Linked DNA regions of Homo sapiens: regions 2 and 3 are each linked to region 1. The links come from fine-mapping of genetic effects on gene expression. A gene starts in region 1. Each other region holds a variant in brackets. All regions are shown on one strand. Distances are from middle to middle. Region 1 holds the start of SAMD12 (sterile alpha motif domain containing 12). Region 2 overlaps SAMD12-AS1 (SAMD12 antisense RNA 1). Region 3 overlaps SAMD12 (sterile alpha motif domain containing 12).

Evidence for each region. PIP is the estimated chance that this variant, and not a neighbour inherited with it, causes the effect.
Region 2: its variant is fine-mapped to the expression of SAMD12 in whole blood (TOPMed, PIP 0.95).
Region 3: its variant is fine-mapped to the expression of SAMD12 in esophagus mucosa (GTEx, PIP 0.96).

The regions. Positions count from the first base shown.
Region 1 is chr8:118,618,187-118,626,373 of GRCh38, reverse strand. SAMD12 (sterile alpha motif domain containing 12) reads left to right here and starts at 4,411. Exons shown (of 4, transcript NM_207506.3): 1 at 4,411-4,570. The coding sequence starts at 4,558. SAMD12-AS1 (SAMD12 antisense RNA 1) reads right to left here and starts at 5,373. Exons shown (of 5, transcript NR_038210.1): 1 at 5,188-5,373; 2 at 4,719-4,839. RefSeq lists a silencer at 4,069-4,218 and enhancers at 4,319-4,518, 5,129-5,338, 5,369-5,418.
Region 2 is chr8:118,701,276-118,709,462 of GRCh38, reverse strand. The region is part of intron 3 of SAMD12-AS1 (SAMD12 antisense RNA 1); the gene reads right to left. Among named protein-coding and RNA genes, the nearest start is that of SAMD12, 83 kb to the right of the region's middle. The variant C/T (reference allele first, on the strand shown) is at 4,148.
Region 3 is chr8:118,581,886-118,590,072 of GRCh38, reverse strand. The region is part of intron 1 of SAMD12 (sterile alpha motif domain containing 12); the gene reads left to right. Among named protein-coding and RNA genes, the nearest start is that of SAMD12-AS1, 35 kb to the left of the region's middle. The variant T/C (reference allele first, on the strand shown) is at 4,932.

The DNA of each region.
Region 1 (8,187 bases):
CCCAAACTGTGAGCTAGGTAATGTATACATTACACAATTAATAGCATTACAATACATGTGGGAAAACCAAGGCACAGAAATGTCAAAGAACTTTGCTAATAACCAACATCGAGTAAATGAGAGTCAGGATTACAATCTAGTTCTGTATGTCTACGAAACTTGAGTACTGAAGCCAAATATTCAGATAACCAGTTAATATAAAGGTAGACAGATTCTGCTCAAATTTTGAAGACATAATTTAAGTCTGATTTTGAAAGTATAGTTTAGACGAACGATGGTATAGAATATCACCAACTTATCAACAAACAGATAACACACAATGCGATTTAATTATGCACAATGTGATTTAAGCAAAAACAACTAGGCTTTTGCTTAAATCATGTTCCCTGAAATATGCTTACTTCCTCCAATGGAAGCCTGATATAACTTGAATGGTTGGCACTTTATTCATGACTCAAGGATTAGAGTTAGTATTTTTTATCTTAATTACAAAAAAATTATTTTTTTCCTCTCAGTTCCTCCTGTCAAAAATTTTACTTTTTAGGGTTTGAATCCTTTTGGTTAGGTTTAGAAGATCTCCCTGAACAGAATAGAAACATAATCTATTTACTTTTTGAGATTTATGAATGTTTTCTGTAGAGGCTTGTGAATATAGCAACCGAGTTAGAACAATAAATACAGTAAAGTACTTATATGTACTATTTTAAATCTTAGAATCCAGTGAAATCTGTAGCCTCATCTCAATATTTCTTTTTTTATTTAATTCACTATAAGGTAATGGGCTTTTCCTTCCCTTTCTGTGCTCTCTGATATATTCAGAAATTTTTGAATCATTCTAAATATCACAATTTCTGATATTAAAATATTTTAAACCCTTCATTTTATTAGTAATGACAATTCCTATTTGGCCAAGTGCTTATGAATTCAGATTTGTGATCACGTAATCAGTATTGAAATCTAGATGGAGTAACATCACAGAGTTCTACACTTAGGTAGACCTCAATCCCCTTGCTACAATTCATGTTTTGGAGACATGGGGCAAATTACTTAAATTCACTGAGCTTCAATTTCCTCATCTGGAAAATAGTGATATCTGACAATATTGTAGTGATTAAAGGAGATGATGTATGTCAAGATGCTTAGACAGAGCTTGGCACTTGTAATTTCCCAACAAATGCTACTTATAACAAGGATAAAAAAATAGTAGTAATAAATTATCTATTGAGTACTTACTATGTAACCACAATTATGACCAAGAATCTGGAAGATATGAAGCATAAGACTCAGTTCCAGCACTCGAAGTGCTTATATACTATAAGGAACAAACAATAGCATCATAATGAACACAGAATTTGGCTTATGAGAGGTATGGGATGAGGTCTGGACTTTGCCCCTTGCTAAAATTGGGTATATCTGTTAGGAACTGTACTTGGCTGCTGATAAAAAAGACCAAAAATAAGTCATGATTGCAGTCTGTGAAAGATACTAAAGCAGAAGCTAAGCTGTGCCCAAATTACTGAGCCACAGAAACTGAAGTAATACATGGGTATTGTTGTAAACCACTAAATATTGGGATAATTTGTTAACAGCAATCGATTAATACATGTGGCTCATCATGTTGTTGTATACAATTGTAATTCCTTCATTTGCATTACTTTATAGGAGGGTTTGGAAAGCTTTTTTTCTGCAAAGGATCAGGTAGGAAATATTTGAGGCTTTGTAGGACAAGAGGCAAAATTGAGGATATTATGTAAGTATGTCTTTATAATTTCCAGGCTTTGCAAATTATACTTTTTTTGTTTTTTTTCCAACCATTTAAAAATGTAAAAATCACACCTAGCTGGTGAGTTATAAGAAATAAATGGTGAGCCATATTTGGCTCATTGGTCTTAGTTTGTTGACCCCTGCTATATGGAATTATTTGGTTATACCACAGTTCATCTCTCCAATCTGTGTTGATAAATATTTGAGTTGTTTTCCATTTGGGAACATTAAAATAATGCAGCCACAAACATTCTTGCACATGTCTTTTGGAGAACATCTGTATGCATATTTGTTTGGTGTAAACCTAGGAGTAGAACTTCTGGGTCACAGGATAAGCATATATTCAGCTGAATATTTCAGATGGTTTTCCAAAGTGGTTTTGTGAATTTGCACACCACCAGCAATATATAAATCTTTATTGCTTCACAATCTTGCCAACGGTTGGTATTTTGTGTCTTTATCTTTCAAACATTCTAGAGATAAATGTAATTTTTTTTTAGTACTTCCCAGGTGATTCTAATGTTCAGCCAGAATTGAAAACCTCTGCGCAACTATTGTTTATCCCTTATTAGGCAGAACCACATGAAATTGTTCTATTTGTAGGTTTTAAAAATGGTCAAACATTGGCTATTTCATATGGTAGAAACTAACATCTCCTTCACATTTTATTTATACTAAAAATAAAACTCGTCTAGAATGCACATCACTGGGAAAAATATTAAAGATGAGCTAAGATGAAGTTTTAAAATTAACCACAGATTTCAATGACTTTTATATTTTTATATCACCCAGATATTTAAAAGCTTGGAACCAGACCAATGGTTTTCACCCTCAATGAAGACTGGAATCACCTGTGGGTTTTTAAAACCTGAGTGCCTCTACCCAAACCCCCATAAGCTCTGATTCTGTGAGACTAAGATAAAAGCTTAGGAATATATATTTGTAGAAGGCTGATGCACAGCCAAGGTTGAGAACCATTGATACTACCTGTCCTATGGCTTTCTTTCACATTCATTCAATCTCAGAAAATACTTAACACTTTGGTGATTTTATATACATAAAGTAGTGAAGCACCTGGATTTCAGTTCTTTCCAGAGTTTAGAATGCTTGGCTGTGTATTAGGTCGGAAAATTCTTTTTCCCATGGAAATTATGTCTCACTGAATGGGTCTCTCTCTACTGTACCTAAAAGAGAGGCTTAGGTTTGACTTGTACACAGCTCCATGGACTCAGAATTAAAGTATCAACAAGAGCATTTAATGGTTACACGCAGGTATTTTTTAAAGTACCTATACACATATTATTATTATATATTACCCAGTAGGGGAACTAAGCATGTAATTAGTGACCAGAACAACAGGTGTGCATGTATACACTGAGAAACGAAATTGTTTTGAAAAACATTTTTTTTTTTTTGCTGATGACCAAGACACACAAAAATGTCTAAGTAGTCATCATGGGAAGAATCCGATTTTTGTACTTCCTCATTTTACAGAGATTAACATTATATATGAGTGACTGGGTGGATGTGGTACCAAATACATTTGTAAACTGAAGGCCTTTAAAAGTCAATCCAGTCTTGAGCCAGATTTATTCCCGAGGCTATTCCCTTACCCCTTCCAGCCACAACTGTATCCGTATTTTCACACGCAGGAAAAAATGTTTAGAAACTTAATTTTTACGAGCTGTCGAATTGTATTGCTATCCACGTGATTCCCATTATCATGTCTGCTTATAGCATCCCCAGCACCTACAGCTAGGACATAGGTTCAGAAGTTGAAGGAACCTGATTCTCAGGCACTGTTAATTATTAGGCCCTATCACAGGCTGTCAACAGGCTCCAAGTCTAGGCAAATTGAAAGCCTCCTATCCTGGAAGCCAGACAGGCTTTCATCTGACCTCCTCCGGTGCAATCCTGGCTCCCAGACTTTGTTCCTAACAACCCCTTGGGGACGTTGCCTATTGGGGTTTAAGCCACTCCTCCTCCCCTACACCCCCATGCCAAGTATTTAGCCACCTGAACCACCCTGTAGGATAAGACAACTGTATCAACCGTCGGAATTCCCCCACAAAACCCATACATCTCAGGGTGCGAAGGAACAAGTTTCAACCTCACCCTGGGCAGCGTTCTCTGGCCCAGGTGGAGAACCACACAGGAGGACAGTGGTCCTGCTCTCCCTACTAAATGGTGGTTCAGGAGGCCAGGGGGCGGGGCGGTACCGGCGGCAGAGGCCCACGGACGAGCTCGCAGGAGCTCATCACACAGCTGACCGTCACCTGCCCACCTCACCACACCTGCTAGGTGCCAAACCCCTTGTAATGGACAGGGAAGGGCTCAATCACGGGTCCCTACTCTTAGCAGCGAACCTATCTCAGCGCACGGCCTCCTGGGAGATGTAGTCCAGACCGCTTCCCGGGAACCCCCCCCCCCTCCCCCCCCGCCCCGCCACAACCAGGCATCCCTGGTCCCCTCACAACTTCCCCAGGAGAGATTGCTCGGCCTGGCCAGCTGAAGCTGGAGTTGCTCTCCAAGTGTCGGGGCCAGGCGGCACTCCGCGGAGGAGTCGGGGTGCTCTCCCCAGTCCGAGCGAAGGGAGGGAACTACACTTCCCAGGACGCCCTGCGCGCGCCGAGCCGGGAGCCGGCTGCCTCGCTTTGCGTGACCGCGGCAGGTTGGTCCTGGAGCAGATAAGCGCAGAATATTTAGGCGAAAGCGAGAGGAAGGGGGGAGCGCGGGGCAGGAGGAGTACCTCGGCCAAGAAAATTATGCATGCGTTAGGGAAGCTCTGAGAGAATGGCTGTGGAAGGTAAGGGACGCTTGGGGCATTTTTAAGCTCCCTCTTAACCCGCGCACCCCAAGGCACACATCCCCGATGAAGCTTGGCGATCGTGGGGAGGCGAGGAAAGGGGGTGGCGGAGAGCGGGCCCCTTCCTCCTCCACCTCTTGGCACTCACCTGCGCCGCCAAGGCCAGTAGGCGCTTTAATTCAGTTGCTTTGGAGAGACGTGAAGGGTAGGTGCGTAGGACTTTGAGGTAGGAGGTGTGGAGACGAGTGTCCCTGATGCGAAACGATATCCTGGAAATGGGGGGAAAGCCGGAGGATCCGGCATGAGGTTTTGGCCCCGAGATGCCCTTTTTCCCTGCCCCCTCCCTCCGGAGCAGGCTGGGTGGCCCCGGGGCTGGGGATGCTTGGTTGGCCCCCCTCACGTGGGAGAGGTCCCCAGCCCAGGTGCGTCATCCGGAAGCTTGGACTGGGATTGGGTCGAGGGCCCTTCGTCCTATGCACCCAGCAGCGGCGGCCGCAGATGTACCCAGAGGGTAGAGGTGTCCCTACACCTGTCTCTGCTTATACAGCCAGCGCCCCGGGCTTAGCAAAGTTTACAGACATGAAATGTAATCAGCCAGGGAAAAGAAGTGCAACAACCTCTTCGATTTGGGTGAATCCTTTTCTTTGAAGATCACTTTCTTCTTACAGTCTTGAGCTTCGGCTTTGCAGTTTTGACCGTAAAGTCCTGCCTCCCTTGAACTTCCTGGTTGAAAGCAGGGTCAGGCTGTTCGTGAGGGATCCTGAGTTTTTCATTTCAGGTTATCTTACCTTGGAACACAAACTTCCTTGTTTAGGTAGTTTCTGAAGAAGAAAAAAAAACTGTGGACCGGAAGGGTTTGTGATGTCACATTAGAGGTCAAGCTGTGCCTGAATGATGAAATGATTGTGGGACGAAATGGGAGCCTACATTCACCTGCAGAATTTTGGTTTCTGAGTGCAGTCAGGTCAGAGGGCGTACTGAAGTAGGAAGAGGAGGGCTTGCCTGCCAGCTGCTTCAGGCGCCTTGCCAAGGGGAAATCAGCCTATTCCTTGTAGGCTAGAGACGAGAAGGCCACGAGGCTGGCTTGCTGCTCCCTCTCCTCCCTGCCCCAGGAGAAAGAAATTGAACTAATCTGACTCTTGCTCCCCTTATAACGACTGTCTTAACAACCTGAAGTAGCAACAACCCAGCTCCTATACTCAGCACCCATAAACTCGGGAAACTCTTGCCTTTGGGCTATCTCAGGTTCAGAGATCCACAGCCAGCCACTTCCAGCTTTCCTAACTTTATTAACAAAAATGAAATCCTCTCTCTCTCTTACAATCAAGATTTTTCTAGGTTTTCTTTTCTGTGCAAATGTACCAGTAGGGTGAGAATCTTTTTTTTTTTTTTTTTTTTTTTTTTGCATCGTTATGCTTGATAGTCAAGACTTCAGATGCCAAAGAACAAAACAAAAGCCGAGATAAAGTTCATCTTGAGCTTGAGACCAAGGATATGTTGACCTACTCCTTAAGTGTCCGTTCTATGTCACCCATCAGGTGACACTGATTATGATCTCTCGTCTTCACCACTCCTGTGTCCCCAAGACAGGGACACTCCTCTTTGTTGCTAGTCCACACTGTTCTCGAAAACAATTTCTTGTTCCCTGTAAGAAGTATAAATTTGTCTTATTTCTTGCGTGATGGGTGATTACACCAGTGAAGCCAGACTTTACAAAAACAAGAACTTAGGAAGGAAGTACATGTGGACTATGGAGAGTTTATTTTCTAGTGACTTGGTTAAAGTACCTGTCTAGTAAACAGGAGATCCTGAGTTTGAATCACAATGAGGTCTCAAAGAATGAAGGAAGTATTTTAAACTTTAACTTCAAATATGATTCCTATCTTTGGTCTTTGCAAAGATATCAGCCTGGACCAGTCCCTTCCTGGTTACTCCTACTTGGTCTTTCAAGCCTTTGGGAAAATGTCACTTCCTCTGGGAAACTGTCCCAGCCCTCCTTTTTCTTCTGCCTTCTCAGCACTCTTTCCAGTCTATGGGAAGTGCCTCCTGCTCACATTTATCTTAATACTTATCATACTTAATCTGCCTCTTACTAGACTCTAACCCCCTTGGGGGTTAGACTTGGACTTTATATTCCTAGCTCATAGCACAGTACTTTGCCCATAATAGGTACTCAATGCTCATGAATTGCATGGCAAATATATTCATGGAGGTTTTGTAACTGGTTCTATAAGGGTACATGGGGCTTTCTTGGAAGCCTAAATGTGATACAATAAGGGATTTCTGACAGATTTGAGGATGGGAGATTTTTTTTTTTTTTTTTTTGAGACAGAGTCTTGCTCTGTCGCCCAGGCTAGAGTACAGTGGCGCGGTCTCAGCTCACTGCAAGCTCCGCCTCCCAGGTTCACGCCATTCTCCTGCCTCAGCCTCCCAAGTAGCTGGGACTATAGGCACCCGCCACCATGCCTGGCTAATTTTTTTGGTATTTTTAGTAGAGACGGAGTTTCACCATGTTAGCCAGGATGGTCTCGATCTCCTGACCTCGTGATCTGCCCACCTCGAAGTGCCCTTCTCTTCAGTCTTTTGTCTTGATGCCCAAAAAATCTTTTAGAACAGTTTACCTCTACTGCTGGGTGACATTGTCCCTGGACACATTTGGGATATGTAGGAACTGCTGCTGGGGGCTGCTGTTGGTATTTTGTGCCCATGGCCACAGATAATAAATGTCCTGCAGCGCATGGCCATCCCGTATAACGAGGCCAAGCCATGGCCAAGTAATGATCAGTTTACCCAACTTATTGAGAAATGCTGCTTCAGAGAATAAGGAGTTTTGCCAGAGGAACTGGAATAGAAAATACAGTTCGAATTGCTTAACATTCTAAGCTTTAGTCTCCACATCTGGAAAAAATGGGCTCACTACTGCTTTCCTCCTGGGAACATTGTGAGGATTTTTTTTTTTTTTTTTGAGACGGAGTCTTGCTCTGTCGCCCAGGCTGGAATGCAGTGGCGCGATCTCGGCTCACTGCAAGCTCCGCCTCCCGGGTTCACGCCATTTTCCTGCCTCAGCCTCCCGAGTAGCTGGGCTACAGGTGCCTGCTACCACGCCCGGCTGATTTTTTTGTACTTTTAGTAGAGACAGAGTTTCACCATGTTAGCCAGGATGGTCTCCATCTCCTAACCTCGTGATCCGCCCGCCTCGGCCTCCCAAAGTGCTGGGATTACAGGAGTGAGCCACCGTGCCCTGCTCATTGTGAGGATTAAATAAAGGAGAGGGCTTCTAGAAGGGTGTCTGGAACCTGCATCCTAAGTAAATATCACTTGTACTCTCATCCCTTCTCTTAGGAAAAGCTATACTATTTGGCATGTGTTTTATATCCTGAATTTTCACTTATTCATGCCAGCCAGTTTTTCTAATTAGTAACAAATTAGAAGGTTTTTTACTATGTGTAACTTTTTCTTAAGTAAACTTGAATTTGTAAAAGTGTTACTAGCAAGTAGTTCACTCATTCACTTTGCTGAACCTGCAGCCGTGTGTTTAAGATGAAAAAGAGGTGCCCTTTGTTTATTGTTTTGTAACTACCCTGTGTTATGTTTTCTTCTTAGTTTATTTGCAACAT
Region 2 (8,187 bases), 83 kb before region 1:
AGAAGTTTCTGGGGAAAAAATATAATACTCAGATACTTTTTTTTCTGCAGAATAAAAGTCTTCCCGTATAATCTCCTCTGATTTATCTTTTCAAAACCTTTCCCCTGTTCCCAAAGCCATATAACCTACACAACCTAACATACTTTAAGTAGAAATACTGATGTTCACTTTCAAACTGGTGCTACTCAGCTGAAAAGGCCTCTCATGCTTACCTTTTTAACTATTCTTGTTCTAGTCTACATGGGCTGTAAACACTACTTCAAAATCTTATTTTTCCAATTTGTGAAAGGTAGATCTCTTCAAATGATTGGGCTTGAAACTGAAGAGGTTGTTAAAGAAGATAGTCGGGCTTTTTAAACTATAAAGAACTGGAGATGAGCTAAAGACATATTTCAGGGCATTTTATAAACATAAAATAATAATGGCAGTAATCAAGATGTCATTAAAAGATACATGAAACTAGCATGCAGGAAACGCACAGATTCAAGAACAATCTTCCTAGGATACCTACAGGATAATCAAGTTGGACTAAAATGTGTTGCATATTCATTCCCAATTAGTCTGAACTCAGTTAAATGATACTCTTTACAATGTTAGTCAAAGAAAAACAGATAACGCTAAAGTAAGATTAAGGGTGCTGATGGGCAAGGGATGGAGGGGGTGAAAATTAACCAAAGTATGAAACCCTCAGACTTCTGAGTGGCCTGGTGACCTTCTGAAGGCTATCTGCCAATATCTGAGTTTGAACTGAAACTTGAGTTTGGTAAACAGAATTGTGGTATTGTATAAATTTCAAATCAAATGTCCATTCAGAGGCTGTGTATTTTTCAGGTGTTTCCATGGTTACATAAAAAGAAAATTGTAATTCACATCTTACTACCCCAGGCTTTTAATACTAAAATCTTCAGAAGTCTTAAAATTGTAAGCCACTGATGTAATTTATTTGCCCCATTTCATTTCTGGTCATATAGTCTGAATTATAGTGGCAAACTACAGTAGCTTATTATTGCTTAATACCAATTCTAAATCTGATTGAGTGGTTCAAAGAATTCCCTTCTTAGCTAGAACCACCAGAGACAAGCCAGACCCACCTCTTGGTCTAGACAAGCTAGATCCATCCAATTCCAAAATGTCACTGGGTCCTGTCTTGAGATTCAGAGTACTTGAGTCAGTATTCAAGTACTGACTACGAGCGTTGCTTTATTTGTTTTTGAGATTTTCCACCATTCTTTCTGCTCCATAATATGAGAAAGTAACAAGATTTTAAGAGAACAACATTATCCATATAGAAAAATATATTAAAATATTCAAGCATCAAAGCTATGCCTATTTTGAGGCAACACAATGCTGCCTCTTATTTAAGCATGGCTCTATTCCCCAAATTGTGTTACTTCTAGCTTTTGGTTTAGAGATTTTGTGTTTGGTATTCAAGGTTAACTTCCTAGTTGATTCAATTATTAACAGTAACAACCGCCACTGTGAAAATGAGATGCTACACAATATTTGGCCTTAAAAGTTAAGAACCTATGAGTTAACTAGATGATCTAATCTAGCTTCAAATTAGCCACATGAAAATAAACTAAATGCTCTTTCCTCTTCATGTTGCAAAGCATTAAAATGTCATATTCTGTAACTTAAGAACGACTGTTCTCATTTGATTCAGGAGATGGTGTGGCATCTTTAATTCCTTTATCAATATTATCTCAGACCAACAGATGGAAGATCTGGCAATTAAGAAGAATGAGCATGTGGTGTACTTATGATGCCTCTTCCACCCCCCTGTGAAGTTTGCTTACTGAAATTTGTTTTACCTTATCCACCAAGTAGGGATTTTGGAGCCAAAAATTACTAAGAAAACATTAAAGAATTTAGGGAAATTAATGATATATTATAGAGGCAGAGACAGAGAATAAATTCGCCACTCTTTTCTCAGCCTATTTCTCTGTTGCAAGATTTTATTCTAACAGACAAGTATACAATATTCCTTGTTCTTTGTTCTTATATAGGGAAATTGTGACATAGATTTTGTCGATAGTAAGTTAGTCAACAAGCATATACTAAGCTTTTAGGCCCTACGGACACACTGGTGACAACAGATAATGGCCCTGTCCACTCTAGAACCAGCAAACTCATAGGAAAACAGGCAATAAGAAAATTACTTCATTTCTTAAATGTAAAAGAGTTGAATTTTAGATCATAGCTCCAGGGATCAAGACATGTTATGTGCTATATCCCTTTTCGTTCCAGCAAGAAACAGATAGTAAAGTCAAGCAAGTAAATGGGAGGTTTTAATAAAGGGAATATTTATAGAGTTGTGGGCAGGATTTAGTCTCCTAAAAGGACTAGTGTTGCACTCCAGTGTGGAACAAGGAATGGTGGAGTCCCCCAGGGCAATAACAAGGAATGGTATGGTACCCTAGGTCTAGTAACAGCAGGGAGCCAGCTGTAACAACCAGGTTCCTCCCCTGCCTTCACTAGCCATCCCTTTCCCTACACCACACACACACACTGAGAGAAATAATAAGGACAAGGTTGGGGGACCTGGAAGAAGAACTGTATGGAGAAATGTGCTGATAGAAACCATTGCCTCAGTGGAAGAAAGCAACAAACCCCCAGCAATCCGGCAGAGAGGAAGCTGGGGAATTAATACACCAACATCATTCTTTTCTATCCTGTCTCCTATTGGTGAATACAGGACCAGAACTAGGCATACAGTTTAAAGAGGCCCTCGCAGTACCCTGGGGTCCTCATTCCTTTTACCCTAATCCCAGCCCTGAGCAAACCCAATTAAAGCTGGAGGGCAAAGCAGCCTGTTGGAATTTTGCAGGGCACAGAGGAAGTCTGAGAGAGTAGAGAGCAAATTGATAGGAGAACAAGTAGAATACTTAGCACACCTCCCTTTATTTTTCTAAATCAAATTATACCTAGTCTAAGTCTCCATTCTTCTGGTTGCAGAGAAATTCAATTTCAGTAAATGTCTGGCTCCATTCACTTCCTTCATGGGATTATACTGATAGAAACATCCTGAAAATTTGTGGCAGAAATACTGGAAGAGGGGCCAGGTCTTGATGGTTGTGGCCTCCTCTAACTTTTTCCATTACAATACTTGATATTCCTCTACTTCAGGAATTTACGCATCTAGGTACTATCTATACAATATTATTATTTTCTTGATATGTTCTTCAAATTCATTTAATTAGTAGAAAAAAAGGAATAGCCATTCAACCATTTTTAACATGTAAAGAGTATATATATTCCGTATGCACATTAAAATAAGTAAGTAAATGGCTGCTTAAAATTAGTCTACATTGTTTGAAGTTAGGCAATATGATGCCCCAGATATATTCTTTTTGCTTAGTCTTGCTTTGGCTATGTGGGCTCTTTTTTGGTTACATGTAAGTTTTAGGATTGTTTTTTCTAGTTCTGTGAAGAATGATGATCGTATTTTGATGGAAATTACATTGAATCTGTAGATTCTTTTGGCAGTATGGTCATTTTCACAATATTGATTCTACCCATCCATGAGCTAAAGTTACCAAAACAGCATGGTGCTGGTATAAAAATAGGCACGTAGACCAATGGAACAGAATAGATAACCCAGAGATAAAGCCAAATGCTTACAGCCAACTGATCTTCAACAAAACAAAAACATAAAGCAGGAAAAGGACACCCTATTCAACAAACGGTGCTGGGATAATTGGCTAGCCACATGTAGGAGAATGAAACTAGATCCGCATCTCTCACCTTACACAAAAATCAACTCAAGATGGATCAAAGACTTAAATCTAAGACCTGAAACCATAGAAACTCTAGAAGATAACATCAGAAAAACTCTTCTAGACATTGGCTTAGACAGAGAGTTCAGGACCAAAAACCCAAAAGTAAATGCAACAAAAACAAAAATAGATGGGACCTGATTAAATTAAAAAGCTCTGCACAGCAAAAGAAATAATCAGCTGAGAAAACAGATAACCCACAGAGTGGGAGGAAATCTTCACAAACTGTGCATCCCACAAAGGACTAATATCCAAAATCTATAAGGAACTCAAACAAATCAGCAAAAAAAAAAAAAAAAAAAAAAAACCCACAAATAATCTCATTTAAAAGTGGGGAAAGAACATGAATAGACAATTATCAAAAGAAGATA[C/T]ACAAATGGCCAAAAAACATATGAAAAAATGCTCATCACTATCAGGCAAATGCAAATTTAAAATACCACCTTATTCCTGCAAGAATGGACATAATTTAAAAAAACAAAAAATACTCGATGTTGAAGTGGATGTGGAGAAGAGGGAACACTTTTACACTGCTGATGGGAATGTAAACTAGTATAACTACTATGGAAAACAGTGTGCAGTGTGGAGATGCCTTTAAAAAACTGAAAGTAGAACTACCATTCAATCCAGCAATTCCACTACTGGGTATCTACCCAAAGGAAAAGAAGTCACTATATTCAAAAGACATTTGCACACACATGCTTATAGCAGCACAATTCACAATTTCAAAAATGTGGAATCAGTCTAAATGCCCATCAACTAACGAGTGGATAAAGAAAATACCACTCAGCCTTAAAAATGAACAAAATGTCATTCACAGCAACCTGGATGGAGTTGGAGACCATTATTCTAACTGAAATAACTCAGGAATGGAAAACCAAATATCATATGTTTTCACTTATAAGTGGGAGCTAAGCTGTGAAGATACAGAGGCATAAGAATGACATAAAGGAATTTGAGGACTCGAGGGGAAGGTGGGAGAGGGGTGAGGGCAATGAGGGATAAAAGATTACACATTGGGTACAGTGTACACCAAAATCTCAGACATCACCACTAAAGAACTTATCCATGTAACCCAAAACCACCTGTTCCCCCAAAACTATCGAAATAAAATAAACTATAAAAGAATATTTAAAATATTAGTCCACATTGTGACCCTTGTTTGAATATTTTTGGCTTGCTCAATATTAAAGTCCATCTTCCCAACCACAGCTGCCCTGGACAAGCCCAGGGATGCATCTCATAGGAGTTATTTCCACACACCAGTTTTACAGCTTCCTTCTCCCCACTGGTGCAAAGCAGGGCTTGGTCTCTGCCAACTTGACCTTATTCTCTGTCTCAGCAGTCACTCTGACACTGCCTCTAACTCTGCCTGTCCATGCACTCTGCCCATCCTTTCCCTTCTCCACTGAGGAATCCACAATTAATCCTCCTGGATGGACCCAACCCATAAGATCTCCTGGCTCTACTAGTTCAAGAGTACTCAGAAATTTAGAAACATAGTAGTGGCTTCTCTGTTATGGGAAGAGAGAAGGGAATCACATCACTTATAAAATACGTTCTTCCTAATAATTCACACTGTCACTAAATAATAACAGCTGTTACGATGAAACAAACAGTGGTAAAGAAAACTGCCTGCAGGGAAGGAGGATATGACCTGCACAAACTTGGAAAGAATTGGCCACAGGCAGCCTAGAGAAAGGTGTGCAGAAGTCAGAGTGCCTGAGCTTGGCAGGCATTCTTGCTAATTTTGCAGGAGACCTTCCAAGTTTTCTAGGTACCTGCCTTATCACCTTTGCTAATGATGATAAACTGTTGCCTCAGGATTCACAGCTACCCTTTCACACTGCGTATGGATTTATTGCTATCAGCCTTAAACGGTAGATAGCAATTAAGGGAAGATGAGTGTGTGGTATAACATAAAAACTTGCAGGTGTTGCTTTGATCCTGAGTGACATCCAAATGTAATGGAATTTCTAGGGACAAATCTCCTGGAAACTATGTATAGTAACAAAGCTATTGATCTTTTTTTTTAATGGAAGAATAAAATTGCCCATCTGGGCATGCCCTGTAATGGCCCATGTGCTAATGCTTCCCACCCTAGGTCAGCACCGAAAGAGTTCAACTAGTGTAACTGGAGCCCAGTGAGAGCTGGGAACCTGGAAGAGGGACTATCTGGCTGGGGTTGTTACCACAGGACACTGCTACTGCTGAAGAAGCATCATTGACACATGGAGACAGCAGGGAAGAAACTCTCCGACCTTTTTCTCCTTCAACAAGCCAATTTCTTTCTTCTTGCCTCCCACTGGTTTAACCCAATGAGAAGCCAGCCAGAAAGGGAGGTGAAAAATGTCGACCTCAAGGATCAGCTTTGCAGGGCACAGAGCAGAGAAGAGAACAGGTTCAAGGTGGACGGGCAGAGGGAAGATGATTTGAGTTATTTTTATCTTCTCCATTTTAGACTCCGGAGATCCACTTAGCTCAGGTGAACCTGACAGGATGAGAAGGAGGGCTAGGAGAGGGCAGAAAATGCTCATTCCCCCTGAGCAAACTCTACAAAACTCATCGGTTTTTTCAACATTTTTGAGGTGGCATACTGACATGGCTGTAAGACTCTGATATAAAGACATAGGAAGTGTGTAATTGACCGTGAGAGTCATAAAAAAAGTATTAAGGATGCATTTTATTATGATCTTATCCCCTTAACCACTAATAGTATGGATATTGAATACTGAGTTAATAGAGAATATTCCATAATAGGATAGCAAAACAGCATTCATAGAAAATTGCCCTTCTATAAGCACCTTTTTTCAGAATATGTGGGTCACAGTGACACACCATCAAGATTTCTCATCAAAATGAAGTTATTAGTTCTCAGCTATCAGCACCATCCAGAGATTACCTTATCTTGAAGGAAGCCACTCATCCAAGGTCACACACCTTGTCCCAGTCCCAGAACAGCCCACATCCAATGACTGATTAACACAGGCCTGTAAAAGACCAGCCCTTTCATTCCAACTAGGGACCCAAGGGTCATGCCATCTTCAGAACTCCCCATAGGAATGACTGAGGTTTCCACTGGACTGCATCTCAGCCCAGCTTCTTTCTCTGCACAATCCTACTTCTTTTCCTCCCTTTTACAGGTTGATCCCAAGAGCACTCCCTAACAAAAGCCCACCATGTCGATCTCCGAGTGTGTTTTCCTGGGACTCAGCCGGCATCACAGAGAGATCCTAACAAATAAACATTTGTATTTCCCTATATTGTTCAACATGCCTCCTGTTTAAAACAGCAAAACAAAGAGATTATTTTCCTGCCAATATTTCATTAAACCCTCTACACATTAGTTTCCCTTTTCCTTTTTTTTTTTTTTTTTTTTTGAGATGGAGTCTCGCTCTGTCATCCACACTGGATTGCAATGGTGCAATCTCGGTTCACTACAACCTCTGCCTATGGGGTTCAAGTGATTCTCTTGCCTCAGCCTCCTGAGTAGCTGGGATTACAGGTGCATGCCACCATGCCTGGCTAATGTTTTGTATCATTAGTAGATACTGGGTTTCACTTTGTTGGCCAGGCTGGTCTTGAACTCCTGACCTCAAGATCTGTCCGTCTCGGCCTCCCAAAGTGCTGGGATTACAGGTGTGAGCCACCGCACCCAGACATTAGTTTCCCTTTTCTAAGATTTTAGTTTTGCTCTTGAAATGTACTTGGAGAAAATGAATAGACCTGGATTATTTAAAATAAAACCCCAAATACACCAAGTCTTATACCAGAAAACCAGAGAAGAAGGCAAAAGGAGAACCAAAGGCCAAGTCAAAAAGGGATGGGCCGGGTGTGGTGGCTCATGCCTGTAATCCCAGCACTTTGGGAGGCCCAGGGAGGCAGACCACTTGAAGTCAGAAGTTCGAGACCAGCCTGGTCAACATGACAAAACCCTGTCTCTACTAAAAGTACAAAAATTAGCTGGGCATAATGGTGCATGCTTGTAATCCCGGCTACTTGGGAGGCTGAGGCAGGGCAACAGCTTGAACCCTGAAGGAGAGGGTTGCCGTGAGCTGAGATTGTGCCACTGCCCTCCAGCCGGGGTGACAGAGTGAGACTCCATCTCAAAAAAAAACAAAAAAAGGTGATGAATGAGAATGTAAGAAATGTATTTACACATCCAATGAAAAAAATGCTTTGTAAATGGAAGGCAGATGCCTGGTCTCATGGACTTTTGCGATGGAAATCTACTAAGTGCTTTAATAGTATCTTATTTAATGGAAAAAGAGGAGATGCTGATGACTATAAATTATGTGTTGCATTATGGCAGTTATTAAATGATTATATATGTCAAGAAAAATGATGAAATTTAAAACGAACTATAGTGGCTTTGTAACTTGTCCTGGCTGATCTACATTTCTCAAAATTCCTT
Region 3 (8,187 bases), 36 kb after region 1:
TGGGATATACGAGGCAAAAGGAAGCTGAGAGAACTCACCACCAGATTATTCAAGGTCCTTCAAGGTCTTTAGATTGTCTTCCTTCTCTTTACCATTCAGTTGTCTTATGTTTGTCTCATATATAATGTCCATCATTTTTAACTTTACTAAGTGGGATGAATGGAGAAAAGTATGTCTATTTCTTCTTCCCTGAAGGATGCAAGAGGAACTACTTTATTTAAAAAAATAAAGAGTAGATGATATGTAGTAAAGGAAAGTAATATTTCATAAAAACGTGGTTCAATTCATATACATAAAGATGATTGGTCATGGATTCACAATGTGAAATCTCTTTCTGTAGTATCATAGTTAAAAATATTTTTAAAGTCACCAGTGTAGACCACTTATCAATCTCTCAAAGTGATACCTGAATCCCTTGTCTAAAGCATCATAGAACTTCTGCATGTGTCTGCCCTTGTATTCTCCTCATGAATGAGAAGAGTTAATATTCATGCCTTGGACATCTTCTAAAGTCTGTCCCCACTTTACTGATTCTGCAATACCTAAGTTAAGCATTATTTTAATTTCCATTGTTTTAGGTTGTCTATGTATCAAGTGTAGGACAAGTGAATATTTGATGTGGTGATTAAACTTAAGTAGTCTTTGGAAAACTAGATTCCATTATAGCGAACTGTTTTTACAAAGATGAAATTGTTTCTGTAGACAAGTAAACCAGAGTGAGTGAGCATCGTGGGGCCCAGAGAAGACCATGTCCTTACACTGCTGCATGTGGTTTGAACGTCTGGCTGTGCTGAACAGTCATGTAGGTCCAGCTTGGGCAGCCACATCATCATTGTCAGGCTACTGTGGGCAGATTTGTGAGGACAATAGCACGAGTTTTGTGGGTTCAGTCTTTCAGTTTCCATTTAGTTTCTTCCCCTGTCTTTCTCATTGATGTAATAACTTCTTTTTTTCCAGTCTCTTCTTGCATGGAATAGGGGAGCCATCTATTATTGGCCACTTAGACTTGCTGGGGGTGGACATGTTCAGCTTTTAATGCTGCTGAATTACCCTTCTGGACATTTATATTTTACCCCTGTTTTTGATAGTGGGAAAAAGACCTCTATAGAAATTTTAAGCTTCAGCAAGTATATGTAATATCACATTTAGCTGACCAAGGAGAAATTTGGAAATCATATTCTGTCTCCTCATTGCCTGACCCAAGTGATAAAATTCAGCATAATTTAGCTCATTTAAATTAGCTGGGAGTGGGGAAGTACAGAATAAGTCAGAGGCTAGTCCTGCAAAGACCCATAAGTTCTTCCTTGATGTTGCTAGAGTAAAGGAGGCTGGGGTTATCAGGTCCCAGTGCCCTTCAGGTTATGGTTATACTCTACCCTAGAGCAAGGGCCAGCAAACTTTTTCTGCAAAGAGCCAGCCAGTAAATATTTCAGTCTTTGCAGGCCACGTGGTCTGTGTCACAGTTACTCACTGCTGCCATTGTAGCACAAAAGCAGACATGAACACTATATAGATAAATGAGCATGCCTCATTTATTATTTTCCAGTAACACTTTATGGACATTGAACTTTGAATTTCATGTAATTCCCATGTGTCATAAAATGTTTTTTTCCAATCACTTTAAAATGTAAAAACTATTTTGGGGTCACAAACCACATGAAAACAAACAGCAGGATGGATTTGGTCAATGGGCCATAGTTTGCTGACCCCTGTCCTAGAAGATATCTGCTGGGCAGTTTCCTTTGCCCAAGGAGATGTTGTGCTCCCTTTCTATTAGCTAAACCAAGCCTGTGTTCCTGAGACATACTTTCTGGTACAGTTGTTGTATTTTTATGTCAACACATTAATGACCAGACACACAGGAACACATTCCCATCCCCATTCATTGATGCAAAAGTTTTCATGAATGATCTGGGCACTTTTCTGGGTACCTTAGGACCCCAGCTAAGCAAGAAAGTTTCATCCTCAGGTCTTCAGAGTGTCATCTGGATTGATTACCTCTGATGTCAGAGTTTACTGATAATAACATGTATTCCTAAGGTATATTCCTAAGGTATATCTGTTATTCATACTATACTTATTCAGCTTTCTAAGTCATAATAGGAGCTGTGAAACCCAGACCAGAACATTTTACTAGGATTTCTGTTTTCTCTTTTAAAAAGAAGGGCTAAACAATCCTATGTTATTGGTTAAAATGGAAATGTGTCATTTTGCAGGGGTTCATCTGAAAGTTGTAGAAGACACGACTAACCATGGCTTAATAAGCAGAGAATTACTTTTCTCACAGACTCTCAAGTCCAGAGGAGAATAATGAAGAACAAAGTTCGAGTAGCCCAATGATGTCAGAGCCAATGTGACTATTATTCTCTTGACTTTTTTTCATCTTTGTAGCCCTGTGGTCACAGCATGTACTGTAGCAGTTCTAGATATCACATATGCCTTTAAGGCAGAGACAAAGGGGAAGAGTGATGTTAAGATCTTTCCTCTTTTGTCAGTTCCAGAACTGTTTGTTTCCCATCAAACTTCTGCTTATGTGCCCTAGGGAGGAATCTGTCATCAACCTCACTTGTAGCTGCAAGGGAAGCTGTGAAATTTGCTATTGGCGTTGTAGCCATACTTCAGTAGGTGGCAAAAATGAGAGTGTTGAGAATGTGTAGCCCATCAGAAGTGTCTGCTACAAAGAGTTACAGACTTTTTGTGATGTTCACATTACTTCTTGAGGGTAGTCTCTGCTGAATTCGAATCCAGAATACAATAAATGAAGCACCTATAATAATTAATATAATGAATTAAACATATTGGAGAGTGTTATGTGTATATTATATTAGGGAAGTGTTAAAGAAGGACCATCTCCTTCAGGAACTTTAGCTAGAAGCAAGACATAAACATGAAATTTGAAATAACCTATCTCAATTCTAATAACTAATGGTGGGGATTGGAGTATATTTGTTTTTAAGGTCACTGATTCATTTAGCAACATTTATTGAGGGTTGAGTATGTACAACTGTTTAGGCTTTGCAGGTGCAAAGATGAATAAGATAGTCTCTGCTTTGCAGATGGCAGTCAAATAAATCAGTAGTTTCAGGATAGCTTTATGGTTTTGTGATTTAACATTTTTGGTGAATTACACAATTAGATTGGAAGCAACTTTTATTTGCTTTTTTGAAAAATATATGTTACGCATCAGTACCGAATGGCAGTGAGTAGGATTCAATCAGTATCTTTCCATCATATCTATGCTCAGTCTATAAACAATGATTGAGCACCTACTGTAAGGTAGTTATGTGGCTACACACTACATTTGTAAAGCTCAGCAAGAAGTAGTCACTTCTTCTGGGGGCTCCTAGTCATAGATTTAGCAGACCTGTCAATAAATATTTGCAACACATGGTACATACACACACATACAGATCATATAAGAAAAAGAGGTGGCTGGGCAATGTAGCTGATGCTTGTGTTCCCAGGAATTTGGGAGGTCGAGGTGGGCAGGTCGCTTGAGCCCAGGAGTCTAAGACCAGCCTGGGCAACATGGCAGAACCCTGCCTCTACAAATAATACAAAAATTAGCTGGGTGTGGTGGTGCACACCTGTAGTCACAGCTACTTGGGTGGCTGAGGTGGAAGGAACACTTGAGCCTGCGAGGTTGAGACTGCAGTGAGCCATGATCACACCACTGCACTCCGGCCTGGGCAACAGAGCAAAACACTGTCTCAAAAAAAAAAAAAAAAGAAAGAAAAAGAGGAGAAGTGTTTTTATTGCTTAAGAGGATATACTGGGTGCAAGACTAGTTAAAGCTTTACAGTAGAAAAAAGAGAAAAATTAATATTTCCTGAAGCAGTTATCTATGCAAATAAGGGAAAGGAAGAGCATATGATGTAAAAGGTCAGTTCTGTCAAGGTAGAGAAGCACAACACATTTCAGGGCACTGCTTGCAGTTTCTATGTGGGGGTTCCTTGGTTGGGGAGCCAGCTCATTCTGAGGGGCAACTGGGAGTGTTTTCACAGTGTCTCTATTCAAGGCAAAACTCAGAATAGAGGAACATTAAAATTTAATAAGTCTCCATCCCTTGTTTCATGACAGAGAGTGGTGTGGGTGGAGATTGGAAGAACTGGAAGTTGGGTGGCTTCCTGGAGACTAAGATGCACTTGTTCTTGGGAATGACAGCAGATGCCAATGCACCCCTCAACTCTTCTAGCATCACTGTGAGCAGAGAAAACAAGGCCTGGCACTTCATTCCAGGTAGCCTGTTACTGTCACCTAAATCACATGAGAATGGCATCCCTCAGCCACTAAGCCTTGGAGAGCCCAGGCTCATTTCCAGCAATCAGCAATCCAAGCCCTGCTTCTGCTGATTAGGACAAGACCTGTTTTGGAGAACATTTCCTTTCCAGGAAAATTCTGAAGTAACCTCATACTTTTGAGCTATAATTTTTACCATTTTATTAAAAAATAAAATAACATTCTAGATGAAAATCACGATGATATTATTCATAAATAAACTCTCAAACCTTTGAATAAAAATATCTTTGGAACCTCTCTTTCCATTTATGGAGGTATTAGGGAAGTTAAAATGAGAGGGAGTGGGGTTTTTAAGTTTTTATTTTTTTATTGTGACAAAATATACATTAAATTCATCATTTTAATCATTTTTAATTATATGGTTCAGTGGCATTAGGCACATTCACATTATTGTATAACCATCATCACCATCCATCTCCAGAGAGTTTTCATCATCCCAAAGTGAAACACTATACCCATAACTTACCAATAACTTCCCATTTTCTCTCCCACAGCCCATGTGTAGCCATTGTTCTATTTTCTTTCTCTGTAGATTTGATTAACTCATATAAGTGAATCGTCCAATAGTTGTCCATTTTTGTCTGGCATATTTCACTTTAGCATAATGTCTTCAAGGTTCATGCATGTTGTAG[T/C]ATGGATGAGAATGCCATTCCTTTTATAGGCGCAAAATATTTCATTATATGTATCACATTGTGTTTATCCATTCATGCATCCACAGGCATTTGGTTTATGCCTGTTTGACTGTTATGAATAATGCTGCTATGTACATGAGCATACAAATATCTTGAGTTCCTGCTTTCAGTTTGTGTGTGTGTGTTTGTGTGTGTGTGTGTGTGTGTGTGTGTGTGTGTATACCTACAAGTTGAATTGTTGGATTAAATGACAATTCTGTGTTTAATTTTTTGAGGAACCACCATACTGTTTCCCACAGGGGGTGTATCACTTGACATTCCCACCAGCAATGCACCTGGTTTTCAATTTTCTGGGGAAGTAGGTTTTTACACATGAAAAAAACATGGTGCCTTCAAAAGGGCATTTCAAAACAATGCTAAAATATGTGCATTTGCAGTGAAACATTTCTCTCTTAAATTTTTTTAAGAGCAATGTTTGTGAAATTCATTTTGGTTTTTAACTCTTCATTTTGAAGAATTCAATATTAATGACATTCAAATTAAGTAAAAGTGACAGCAGCAGCACTTCCCATAAAGACCACAAGCTGCCTGCGGTGTCAGTTCAATGACTAGGAATCCGTCAGGCACAGGAGTGGTGGTGAAGATTAGGGAAACGAGAAGAGGGTCTCGAAGCCGACCAGTGAGCTGCCAAGCCCATTAAATTAAGTAAATAACTTTAGGGAAAACAAGAAAGGGCAGTGATGAACACAAAAAAGAGAAATCAAAAGGGGACACCTTTGACACAAGCAAAGAGATGGAGGTCATGCATTGTAAGAGGCCATTGGAGAGTTGTTTGATTTGTAAATATTAGGGACATGAAATTTCAGGGAAAACAAAGCAAAGTCTATCAAAAATGGTTTTAAATAAATAATTCTAAGTACAAAAACCTAAATCAACTACTGGGGAGTTTGCAGTGGAGGAAGGAACAGCTATGGAGGATTAAAATATTTGTGTGAAAAATAAGCCTACGTGTGTGGAAAGTCAAAAAACTGTATTCTGCCTCCTGTTTATAGATACCTTACATTTTGAATGCCAAGTATTTACTAGCAGAGAAAAGCTTTCTTCTGATTTAAGGCATGATTGCGTAAAGGAAGGGAATTGCTGGTTCATTCTGCAGCTGAACAAGTGTTTCCTTAATGTCTCTTATGTGCCAGGTCCTGGACTCAGGAATGGAAGTCATGGAGATGAAAAACAGATGGTACCTGCCTTCCAGGAGCTTACAGTTGTGCTGGGCAAGGCAGACAGATCAATTACATGGACATTCTTAGTACTGTGAGGAAAATGAAGCACCAGGGGACTGTGCATGAGGGAGCATAGGGAATGGTTTCTTGCTGTGGTAGCCAGAGACTCCTAAAAGGCTTTCTGAAGAAGAGGTCTGAGCTGACATGAGGTGAATAGGACTTAGCCTCCCAAAGAGCAGGAGATAGGATTAGGTTGGAGTAGGACCAGCATTTCTAGGTGGTGGGACCACCGTGATCAGAGGTGAAGGAAGTATAAGAGTCAAATTTGGTGGGGAGGTGATAGGGGAAGAGAATAGGAGGTCTACCAGCAGTTCAGTGGTATTCCTAGGTCATGAATTTCAAGGTAGGAAGCAGCAGAGGATAAAGCTAGACAGAAAGATCAAAGCTACACATTTTTCTTTTCTTCATTAATGTCTGAATCCATCCCATGCCAATCCCCCATCTCCCTACACAAGCACACCTTTTAAAAATAATCACAACTTTGATGTATTTAATTGAATATTCATTGTAAGTAGGCCAGTCTTTGGAGATGGAGAAGCTGATTGATAATAACAGTAATTAGCTTCAAGCTCTCAGAGGCTTTGGCTACTAAGTTCTCTTTCCAGCACTGCCTAAAGTGGGCATTGTTGTTGGTTCCCCAGCATCCATTCTGCTACAGCCCTGTTGAGTAGCAGCAGTGTGGTTTGGGGAATTGACCTGAGCTGGTCAGTTGGTTTAAGGGTAATCCTATTTCCACTGCCAGCATGTTAGTTCAGTAATAGGCATGTAATTCACTCCTGGCCAATGAGAAAAGAGAATAAAATTTGAAGGAGGTTTGGGAGAAAAAGCCATAGTCAACCAAGCCCTTTCTGCTTCAAGATGAAAACTAAAGCTTGTAGTCTAGATGCTACAAAGGGACCCAGGTTCAGGATAAAGTCGGTGCTATGGATAATAGAATGGAGAAAGAAAAAAAAAAAAGCACAGTGCTTGATGAAACTACCGAGATGCAAATCAGCTAATTCTGAACTTGTGCCATCACTGGACTTCTTGTTCTGTCAGCTAATAATTTTCCATACCATTTAATCTAGTTTGGATTTTTCCATGTGTAATATGAAATCGTGTATACTAAATGGGCCATGATTTTTGTGACTTTTCTGTACACACCAGTATAGTATGCCCTTTTGTGAACCTAACCCATTTGAGCCTCATTTTCCTTATCTGTGAAATGAACATAGTTATGTCTCAGAGTTTTTCATGAAGATCATTTGAGATTCAGAACAAAGCCCAAAAGGGAGGTATGAACTAATACATGTTAAGTGCCCAGAGTGTACCACTAAATAGGAAGCTTAGAGACTAGGAGAAGAGAAATTCATAAATAATGTCCACATAAAGTGGTAGAAATAAGATCACGTGCATTTGGACCTTTGTGCAATCAGTTTGTTTTTTTAAAGAAATATCATTGAATATTTGAGCAGTATGTTAGGTGTAGAGCTGTTGGATTTGCTGATAGATGAAAGGAAAGTGATGGATCATAGAGTGATGTTAAGGATGTCTCATCAGTTTCTGTGTAACTTGCGAAGACTGAAACAGGCAAATTGTTTCTGCTGCAGTTTTACTTGTCTGACATTCATAAGAAAGGTGTGTCTAGGCTGCAGTTAATATTTGGGAGTCACCAGAATGTTGATTGGGAACATAGGAATAGATGATATCTATTAAGGAGGGAGTGGATAGTGGGAGGAAAACACCTCACTTCTTTTGGGAAGCCTGCCTCATCCCTCAGGTCTAAAGTACTCATCAGAATCCTGGCAAAGATGAGGCAAAGAGGAAACTATGGCCTAAATGGAGTGCCGAATAGAGAGTTGGACTTTTTGAGTCACGGAAGCTGGCTGGAGGGGAAGAATGCTGAGAAAGGGGAAAGCCTAAAGATGTTGGGTAAAAGATTATTGATGAAGTGGAGACCTGGGGAAGATGGGGGTATTAAGTATCTGGCCTTAACT